Linked DNA regions of Homo sapiens: region 1 is reported to be linked to region 2. Evidence: microRNA targets listed by miRTarBase, many of them from high-throughput screens and not tested one by one. Region 2 holds a microRNA gene; the other region holds the end of a gene's coding sequence.

What was found. Region 2 holds the annotated microRNA hsa-miR-6876-3p (AGCUGUCUGUGUUUUCCUUCUCAG, at 3,273-3,296, shown strand). A microRNA usually pairs through its seed, bases 2 to 8, with sites in the 3' UTR of a target mRNA and lowers its output. Matches are read on the target gene's strand: a 7mer-m8 pairs with bases 2 to 8, a 7mer-A1 pairs with bases 2 to 7 and ends in A, and an 8mer does both.
Region 1: miRTarBase lists ZNF182 as a target of hsa-miR-6876-3p. Seed matches in the 3' UTR shown: 7mer-m8 at 1,447-1,453 and 8mer at 1,546-1,553.

The regions. Positions count from the first base shown.
Region 1 is chrX:47,972,038-47,977,418 of GRCh38, reverse strand. ZNF182 (zinc finger protein 182) reads left to right here. Exons shown (of 6, transcript NM_001007088.2): 6 at 1-2,568. The coding sequence ends at 1,252. Among named protein-coding and RNA genes, the nearest start is that of ZNF182, 29 kb to the left of the region's middle.
Region 2 is chr8:25,342,179-25,347,559 of GRCh38, forward strand. MIR6876 (microRNA 6876) reads left to right here and starts at 3,224; the gene lies at 3,224-3,296. DOCK5 (dedicator of cytokinesis 5) reads left to right here. Exons shown (of 52, transcript NM_024940.8): 25 at 223-329; 26 at 3,297-3,433. RefSeq lists enhancers at 3,173-3,232, 3,215-3,509.

The DNA of each region.
Region 1 (5,381 bases), not on the chromosome of region 2:
ACATCAGAGAATTAAAAATGGAGAGAAACCCTTTGAATGTACTGCATGTAGGAAAACCTTCAGCAAGAAGTCACACCTCATTGTACATTGGAGAACTCATACGGGAGAGAAACCTTTTGGATGTACCGAATGTGGAAAAGCTTTTAGCCAAAAATCTCAGCTCATTATACACTTGCGAACTCATACAGGAGAGAGACCCTTTGAGTGTCCTGAATGTGGAAAAGCCTTCAGAGAAAAGTCAACTGTCATCATACATTACAGGACTCACACAGGAGAAAAACCTTATGAATGTAATGAATGTGGAAAAGCCTTCACTCAGAAGTCCAACCTCATTGTCCATCAGAAAACCCACACTGGAGAGAAAACCTATGAATGCACTAAATGTGGAGAATCTTTCATACAGAAGCTTGATCTAATTATACATCATAGTACCCATACAGGAAAGAAACCCCATGAATGTAATGAGTGTAAGAAAACTTTCAGTGATAAGTCAACTCTCATTATACACCAGAGAACTCATACGGGAGAGAAACCTCATAAATGTACTGAATGTGGGAAGTCTTTCAATGAGAAGTCAACCCTCATTGTGCATCAAAGAACTCATACAGGAGAGAAACCCTATGAATGTGATGTGTGTGGAAAAACCTTCACGCAAAAGTCAAACCTTGGTGTACATCAGAGAACTCATTCAGGAGAGAAACCCTTTGAATGTAATGAATGTGAGAAAGCCTTCTCTCAGAAGTCCTACCTCATGCTGCATCAGAGAGGTCATACAGGAGAGAAACCTTACGAGTGCAATGAATGTGAAAAAGCATTTTCACAGAAATCATATCTCATTATACATCAAAGAACTCATACAGAAGAAAAACCCTATAAATGTAATGAATGTGGCAAAGCCTTCAGAGAAAAGTCAAAGCTCATTATACATCAGAGAATTCATACAGGAGAGAAACCTTATGAATGTCCTGTGTGTTGGAAAGCTTTTAGCCAGAAGTCACAGCTCATAATACATCAGAGAACGCACACGGGAGAGAAACCCTATGCATGCACTGAGTGTGGCAAAGCCTTCCGAGAAAAGTCAACATTCACTGTACATCAAAGAACTCATACTGGAGAGAAACCCTATAAATGTACAGAATGTGGGAAAGCCTTTACCCAAAAATCAAACCTTATTGTACATCAGCGAACCCATGCAGGAAAGAAAGCCCATGGAAGAGGCCACACTCGGAAGTCAAAGTTCATGGCACATTAGAGAGCTAATCAGCAGTATCTATTATGGACACTGAAAGAAAGTTGTGTCAATTTTACTCACATTTTAAAAGTATATTTTGACTTGTGGTTTAAATATGGGAGTAAATTCAGCCTTTCTTCTTTTCATCTCAGTCATAACCCAAAAGCTACGGGAGAAAAAGCAGAAGTGTAATCTCTGTATCTGACAAAATTAGGAGACAGCTGCAACCCTAATGAGAGGGCTGCCACAGGCAGAGGAAATGAAGCACTGGTGCAGGAGATTTCAGAGTGAGAGTGCTCAAGGCTGCAGGTGCAAGACAGCACTGGTAAGGACTCTTAGCTGAGGTTCGGGATATACCCCGAGGCGCGGAACCATAGATATAACAGTGGTAACAGTGCGTGGGCAGGTAGGAGGTAGGATGTTTCCTAGACCATTTGGGGTCTGAGGAGAAACAGGCTGGGGCCTCGAGAAGGAGTCACTCAGACAAGCCATATTTTTAGAAAGTAGTCTACTGATGGGAGCAACAGTTATGGCATGCTGGGGGAAGAGAAGGGACTTTTCCTTGTGAAGAGCCCTACAGCTGCCCCTATTTACTGACTTGGGAGAAGTAAAGTCAGAAAGAACGAACAGCTGTGGGGGGAAAAAATTCTCAGTTGTCAAAAAAAAAAAAAACTGATCTGCTTAGAATGTGGCCCTGGTTTCTTTTCCCACATGAACCTCCAGCAAATAGCAAGTCCAGGAAAAACTCTTCTCATTCAAAGAGGAATTATTCAAAAGTAATCAAAACCACAAATGCATTTGGTTTTTGGGCCAGCAATTCCACTTCTAGGAATGTACATACTCACACATGTACAAAATGATGAACATACAGTATTCATTAATGCAGCGTTTGTGAAAACAAAAGATTGGAAGCTGTTTAAATGACACCATATCAGGGTTCTGGTTCCCTAAATTGTGGTATATTCATACAGCCTACTCCTGGGTAGACAACAATGAATAAATAAGGAGAACTTGGAAACCATTTATGTAGTGATGTGGGATAACCTTCAGTTTATGTTATTAGGTAGGAAAAATAAGGTTGAGGACAGTGACTGCCATTTGTATATAAAAAGGAGAAAAATGGTAAGTACATAATTGTGAATTCATAAGTTATCTCTGGAAAGAGACATGAGAACCTGGTAACCCTGATTACCTTGGGAGGGGAAGGGGCAGTGGTGGCTGGGGGGATGGAATTGAGAGGGAGACAACTGTATCCTTTCATAGCTTTTGAAAATGTGGGTGTACTATGTACTATGTGGATGTACTACCTTTTCAAAAATAAAACATTTAAAAAGCTATTTTGTTTTACTGTTATAGTAAAGTCACAGTCTAGGTACAGGATTTTATAACATTTAATATAGATATGCTCAATGTAGAGTTTATTTTTGGTGAATAAATTGAAGAACCAAGCAGATAGAACAACAGTTATTCAATCAATTCCAGAGGCACATAGGCATTATTTTCCTGAGGTTGCCAAATGAAGTGATTCTCCGGTCAGCTGGGACCACATTAGGTAACTAAAATAATTGAGACTGGAACATGCATAGTGACATCTGTGAAAAGATCCTGTACTAAAGCCCACCGAGGACTTTCCATATCTTAACGAAATTATTTTTATTACATCATTCATACAAACGCTTTTTACAAGTGCTGCAAAACACGAATCCATAGAGAGGTTGAATAACTTGCTTCTCTAAGGTTGCTCTAGTGCTGGCGATACATATTTTCCAAGGTGATAGACAGATTGAGAGTGATGGTCTGAATGGACATAGTCAAAGCCCACATAACAGGACATTTGCTTCAGAACGAGAGGTCCTGCTTGTGAATTACTGTATTTGTGGCCCTCATGCTTCTGTGGCTTTTCACTGGGGCCATCTCTTTGCTGGAACTGGACAACTTAAGCTGTGAAAAACTAGGGATGGGCAATGTTTGGATTTATCAAAATGGGTGGGTGAGTTAGACCTGAGACCCTGCCTGTGCCCTTTCGGGCCTTCTTTTTACCCTGAGTAATCCTGCAAGGAAACAAGCCGTGGGCTCACTTTATGAACTATTTAAGGTAAACCTATCACATTCAGTGCCTTTCCAGGGAGAGGAAACGTGGGGCAGACTGGCTTGCTCCTGGTGCAGTCTCCTTGAAAGATGCCCAAGGGCACTGGAAATAAAGCTATTTTTCCTTTCTACTTATAGAGAATCTTGCTAGGGTTTCAGGTCCATTGAAGGCCATCCTATAGTGGGGTGGGGGTGAGGGTCAGATCTCACCATTTCAGGTAGATCTTGGACTCCTGCTTCCTGGGACACAAATGGCAAGCTGATGGCCCACATGTGGGTGAATGGAGGTGAGTGAAGCACAGACAGGGGAATGGATGGAGATGAACATCAGCATGTGAATAAAAGGATTGGGATTGGAGGAAGAGAGAGGAGGGCAATGAAGGGCTAAGTGGGGAGTGAATGGAGTAAAGAGGGGCAGAAGGGTGGTGAACAGGGAAGAGTAGGGCGAAATGGGGGAAATATCCAGTGTTGTGAGTTACTGGAGAAGAAACAGTTGAGTGTAAGTAAACATGAGTAGTGTTGGGGAGAGAAGGAGGGAGTAGACTGGCAGTGAGTGGGTGCAGAGTGGAGGAAATTGGGAGTGATATGAGGCACAGTGTGAATGACAGTGGTTAATGGGGTTGGGTGAAGAGCAGTGCAGGAAAGTGGCAAAGCATGGCATGACGCTAATGAATGAAGAGGGGAAGAATGCCGGGCAGTCAAGGTGGGAAGACTGTGCTGGAATGGGAGGCACTCTGTGAGGTGAGTGATGGGGATCTGTGGTGTCAGAGGTTATAGGTTCTTGGGGTCTCAGTGATGCATGACCTTGCGTTGGTGGTGATGGGGAGTTGGGTGGAGGTGGGAGGTGATCCCTGGGGTTTCTGCACAAAGAGGAGCTGCGCTGAAGACCCTGTAGTGACCACAGGTGTATGGGATGGGATCAGCCTGTGTTCTAGACAGTGCTCAATGAATGTCACTTCTGTGTTCCATTCCTGATGTGGTTTGGATCTGTGTCCCCATCCAAATCTCATGTTGAATTGTAATCCCGTGTTGGAGGAGGGGTCTGATGGGAGGTGATTGGATCTTGGGGGTGGAGTTCTCATGTATGGTTTAGCACCATCCCGCCTTGGTACCATATAGTTAGTGACTTCTGGTGAGATCTGGTCGTGTAAACGTGTGTAGCACCTTCTTCCTTTCTTCCTCCTGCTCCTGCCATGTAAGATGCCTGTTCCCTCTTTGCCTTCTGCCATGAGTAAAAGCTCCCTCAGGCCTCCCTGGAAGCAGATGCTTCCATGCTTCCTGTACAGCCTGCAGAACAGTAAGCCAACTTAACCTTTTTTCTTTATAAATTACCCAGTCTCAGGTATTTTAGCAGTATGAGAACAGACTAATACAATCTCCTTGCCATTGTTACTTATATATACTCAGAGGGGGAGAGGGCCCACTGCAAGAGGTGTCCCTGACACCGCCCCCAAATCAGCTCTGTTGTGCCCCCTTGGCCAGCCCTAACTCCCACCCCCACATCTATTTATGCCAGTTACTTAATTTGTCTTACTGCTTTAGCTAAAATGTCTAAAATAAAATTAATTATGGTCCTTCTTCACCTTGTTCTTAGGGCTCCCGAAACTATCCTGGATTCCTAAGATCAGCCCTGTGTCCCTTGATTGACCCTATAACCACCCAGATCAATACTGGGCCCCCAATATTTTAGCCAATTATTTCATATTATTGTCCTATTTCTTTAGGTAAACTCCAAACTTTGAATTATGATCCCTTCTCACTTTATCCTTTGGGGTCTGTTAATGTGAGAAGTTCCCTTGATACAATGATAGTCTTCAATATGCGACCAGGCAAGCTACCCTAGAAGTCTCAGAATAGAAAGGCTCACAGACCAAATTAAAATGCTTTAGTCAGGCCGGATGTAGTGGCTCACGCCTGTAATCCTGGCACTTTGGGAGGCCAAGGCAGGTGGATTGCTTGAGGTCAGGAGCTCAAGACCAGCCTGGCCAACATGGTAAAACCCCGTCTCTACTAAAAATACAAAAGTTAGCTAGGTGTGGTGGCACATGCCTGTAGTCCCAGC
Region 2 (5,381 bases):
GGGTGTTCTTTGGCAATTTAAATACTCAGCTCTAAGGCAGAGCCCTCCAGTAAGTGAGGATAAAATCTCCCTTGCTGCCATGTCATAAACTCTCAGGTCATTTTGTAGTTTTCCAGGTAAATCTCTCCATGCCCAAATCTCAGAGTGGAGGAGAAAAGTTTATAATGATGCCTTCAATTTGGCAGAACGAAGACACTACTAACCCTGAGGTTTCTCTCCCAGCGTGCTCTTCTGCAAATTCATTCAAAGCATTCCTGACAACCAGCTGGTTCGGCAGAAACTTAACTGCATGACCAAGATAGTAGAGAGCACTCTTTTTCGACAGTCAGGTAAGTCTCCTTCAAAACTTGCTGCATGAGGTTGCAGTGAGCTGAGATTGCACCATTGCACTCCAGCCTGGGTGACAGAACAAGACTCCATCTCAAAAAGCTAAAACAAGCTGCTGCATGCTGAGATGACAGCCCCATTTCTGCAGCTAACACTTGGGTTTTGTTGTTTGTTTGTTTTTTCTTGTTTTTTTTTTTTTTTTTTTTTTTTTGAGACGGAGTCTCATTCTGTCACCCAGGCTGGAGTGCAGTGGCGCAATCTCGGCTCACTGCAACCTCGGCCTCCCAGGTTCAAGCAATTCTCCTGCCTCAGCCTCCCAAGTAGCTGGGACTACAAGGACCTGCCACCAAGCCCAGCTAATTTTTTTTTATTTTTATTTTTAGTAAAGACGGGGTTTCACCACGTTAGCCAGGATGGTCTTGATCTCCTGACCTCGTGATCCACCCGCCTCGGCCTCCCAAAGTGTTGGGATTACAGGCGTGAGCCACCGCGTCCGGCTTGTTTGTTTTTTAAGACGGAATCTCACTCCCTCACCTAGGCTGGAGTTCTGTGGCACTGTCTCTGCTCCCTCTAACCTCTGCTTCCCAGGTTCAAGTGATTCTCCTGCCTCAGCCCCCTGAGTAGCTGGGATTACAGGTGTACATCACCACACCCAGCTAATTTTTTTTTTTTTTTGTATTTTTGGGAGAGGGGGGGTTTCACAATGTTGGCCAGGCTGGCCTCAAACTCCTGACCTCAAGTGATCTGCCCAACTTGGCCTCCCAAAGTACTGGGATTACAGGCATAATTACCGTGCCCAGTCAGCACTTGACTTTTCTTTTTTAAAAATGTCATTAATATTCTTGCCAGTTGTTTGTTGGCAACATTAATATTGTTGCCAGTTGTATGTAAGGACCTCCTGGGAGAGCGGTTTTAAGGAGAATCTAAAGTCAGCTCGGTATTTCCAACAGTTCCTAAAAGAGCAAAATCATGTGTTCCTTAATCTTTAATTAGAACAATCTGCAAGTGGTTCATTAATTAGAGAATTTTGTCTTTAAAACAGGAACCTCAGGAAGTAACAAGCAAGTAGGAAAAGATGACCCTTTTAAAAGAAATTATTCTTCTTTAGTCTATACTTATTGCATGACCTTAAAAACCAGGGGACAGGGAAACAGCAATGTGTTGGATCCCACAGGAGAGCTGGTTACATGCATCCCTTCTCAACCCCACGTTCAGTGATATCACATTAGTAGCTGGAAATTGACCATGGTGGAAGTCTTTACACCAGGGTAACTGGCAAACATGATAAAGCAAGCGTTTTTTTGTTTTGTTTTGTTTTGAGATGGAGTCTCACTCTTTCGCCCAGGCTGGAATGCAGCAGCATGAACTTGGCTCACTGCAACCTCCACCTCCCAGGTTCAAGCAATTCTCCTGCCTCAGCCTCCCAAGTAGCTGGGATTACAGGTGTGCACCACCATGCCCAGCTAATTTTTTTTGTAATCTTAGTAAAGCCAGGGTTTCACCATGTTGGCCAGCTTGTCTCAAGCTCCTGACCTCAGGTGATCCACCCACCTTGGCCTCCCAGAGTGCTGGGATTATAGGCATGAGCCACTGCACCTGGCCAAGCTGTTTTCTTTAGGGGGTAGGCTGGCAGAAGCCAGATTACTAGTATTCTGCTGGGAGAGGAGTGGGGCATGGAGGGGAAAAACTCTTACACTGATAAAATACTTTTCATTTTGTAAGTAGAGTCTAGCAAATAGCCACCAAGTGTTTCTGTCCCAAAGCTGATATAAACAGGAGGTCCAGCACCTGGGCCTTCCCAATAAACTCAAGACTTGCTAGAGTGAGGCAGCCACGGAGACTTCTTCTGGGGCTAACTACCTGGTCAGGGGCTCCCAGAGTGTAACCTCATTTTATGTATGTATATTGCCTGGAGATCTGAAGACCAGCAGGACTCCTCAACGTTAAACAAGTTGAGTGGATTGTTGGTGGGAGAGCCTTCCTGGCTTTGCCCCTGGCTAGTTATGTAACTGGACAAATGAGTGGCCTTCTCTAAGTCTCAGCCTCCAGTTCTGTGGAAGGAAGGACTTGAGCTAGATCGTATCAGTAGCCTCCTTGGGCTCTGATATTTTCTGACCCTATGAATTTGCACTTTGAAATTGCAAATGTTCCTAAGACACAATTGGAGGTAGAGGTAATGCCTGCAAAAGGTTAGTGAATGCTCATAAGTAGAAAACATTTATTACTAAAGCAAATTATTACTAAACATTTTAATATGCTTTGATCACTTTTTAAGGATACAGAAAAGGTAATTGAGATAGTAAAGATAAGGTGTTTGAGCAGAAGAGCAAGCATGCACTGGATAGTTCTACTTAGAGTGTGATCACGGTTAACAGTCATTTCTGTAGCATTCAGAGTACCTGAACTCATTATAAAATGTGTTACAATAGCAAAGATCTCAGAAGACATAATAGGTCATACCTTACTTTCTGAAATCCACACGCCTGCACAGACATGAGCAGAATGTCATTGACATGTACTAGGGAAGCTCAGTATTTATAGGAACTTTATTTATAGGAACTTCTTTCAGTAAATTTTCTCCATTAGGTGAAAAAATTTTTGAAAAAAAAAATGTATAACTTGCTTGGTTTTATTTGTTTCATATGACCCTCAATTTCGTGCATTAGGTTGGCGTTTTGAAAAGCTAGAGAAATTGTTAAATAATTTAAACATTTTGCTAAGTTCCCACCTTCACCTGTGAGAAGGGTCATTTTTTTTTTTTTTAATTCATTCATCTGCGCATTGAACAAGGGTAAAGTTCCGTGCCTAAAACCAGGTGTTCCTGGGTGGCCTGGAGGGGCTGCATCCCTGCAGGGCTGATTGCAGAGCTTAGAGCTACTGGTACTGGTCGAGGAAGAGTTGCAGGAAGGAGACAGGCAGTTCAGGAGGTGGCACTGCTGTGTGTGAGCTGTCTGTGTTTTCCTTCTCAGAGTGCAGAGAAGTGCTGCTGCCACTGCTGACAGACCAGCTCAGCGGCCAGTTAGATGACAACTCCAACAAGCCTGACCACGAGGCAAGCTCGCAGCTTCTGAGCAACATCCTGGAGGTGCTGGACAGGAAGGATGTGGTGAGTTGAGTCATCACTGATGCTGCACAGAGTTCACACTGTCCCCTTTGCACCAGACAGGAGTGACTCCGTGGCCTTCCTATTCTCAGGTAGTTTCCAGCTCCGGTATTAGGGCAGGCTGTGCCCATTTTAGAGATAATTAGGGAGGCCAGAGCCTCCAGTGCAAAGTCAGATTACTGCTGGGGCCTTCTGCAGGCTGATTTTCCTGGCTTGCCCAGTGTGCGCACTATTGAGATCCCTGTGACTTTTTTTTTTTGAGAGGGAGTCTCGCTCTGTCGCCCAGGCTGGAGTGCAGTGGCGCGATCTCGGCTCACTGCAAGCTCCGCCTCCCGGGTTCACGCCATTCTCCTGTCCCAGCCTCCCGAGTAGCTGGGACTACAGGCGCCCGCCACCACGCCCGGCTAATTTTTTTGTATTTTTAGTAGAGACGGGGTTTCACTGTGTTAGCCAGGATAGTCTCGATCTCCTGACCTCGTGATCCACCCATCTCGGCCTCCCAAAGTGGTGGGATTACAGGCATGAGCCATCGCGCCCAGCCCCTGTGACTATTCTTAAGAATCAAAGACCTGACTGGGCATGGTGGCTCAGGCCTGTAATCCCAGCACTTTGGGAGGCCAAGTCAGGAGGATCACTTGAGTCCAGGAGTTCAAGACTGACCAGCCTGGGCAACTTAGTAAGACTTTGTCTCTCTAAAAAATAATAATAATAATAAAAAATAAAGAATCAAAGGCCTTTCTGTTTTTATGCAGACACCTCTTCCTTCTTATCCTCTGATGCCTAACAACCTGATATTTCTGAGCTGCTGAGAAGTTCTCATTTCCATATCCTCTTGGACACTGATACTTTCTCTGGAACCTAATGGAAATTATGTTTTCTCATCTTGCGTTTTCTCTGTGACCTGGCCCCCATCCCTCTTGAAAACACAGGGCTAAGGCCGGGCGTGGTGGCTCACGCCTGTAACCCCAGCACTTTGGGAGGCCGAGGTGGATGGATCACGAGGTCAGGAGATCGAGACCATCCTGGCTAACACAGTGAAACCCTGTCTCTACTAAAAATACCAAAATTAGCTGGGCGTGGTGGCACGCGCCTATAGTCCCAGCTACTCGGGAGGCCGAGGCAGGAGAATCCCTTGAACCTGGGAGGCGGAGGTTGCAGTGAGCCAAGATTGTGCCACTGCACTCCAGCCTGGGTAATAGATTGAGACTCCAACTCCAAAAAAAAAAAAAAGAAAACATAGGGCTGAACCTGTCTGGATTCACCATGTCCTAGAAATAGTGCAGCCCACAGGCCTAGCAGAGCCCCCACACAGGAAGCTGGAGAACTTTGCAGAATGTGTTCACTCGAACAGTTGAGGGCTGAGAAAAAAAAAGCATCTTACCACAAATTATAGTTACCACGTCTATGGTGGTTTCATGGCACAGGTGTTCCCACAGAACAGGAAAACCACTCTTTGTCATCACCTAAAGTCTTTATCTTTCCAGTATCTTGGGATTCTGTCCTACCAAAGGATATGAATACTACACCTTTTCCCATAGCTAAACCGTTAGTTCACTTGTCAGGGTCCACCACCGTTTGACTACAGCCCACCTTTTCTCCTGCTCATGGTTTGCACTGGGATGTCTACATTTCTGTGAATCCACATTGCAGCCTCAGAAGTATGTGAGGGTACCATTGCCATCTCTAGCTGCTCCGCCAATCTCTGTCCCTCCACTTCCCTAAGCCCCTGTAGCCCACTTACTCTTTGCACTGCTTACTTGATATTTATTCATTATAGATCATTCCCCCTTTTTTTCATTAAGTATGTTTATAGAAACCACATTATAAAATGGAATACATTTTCTCAAAGCATGTTGCGATTGGAGATTTGGTTCCTAACCAAGGACTTTGCACCAAATACGTAAATGTGACCAATCACGTCATAAACTCAATACTTTTTTAAAAGTAACTC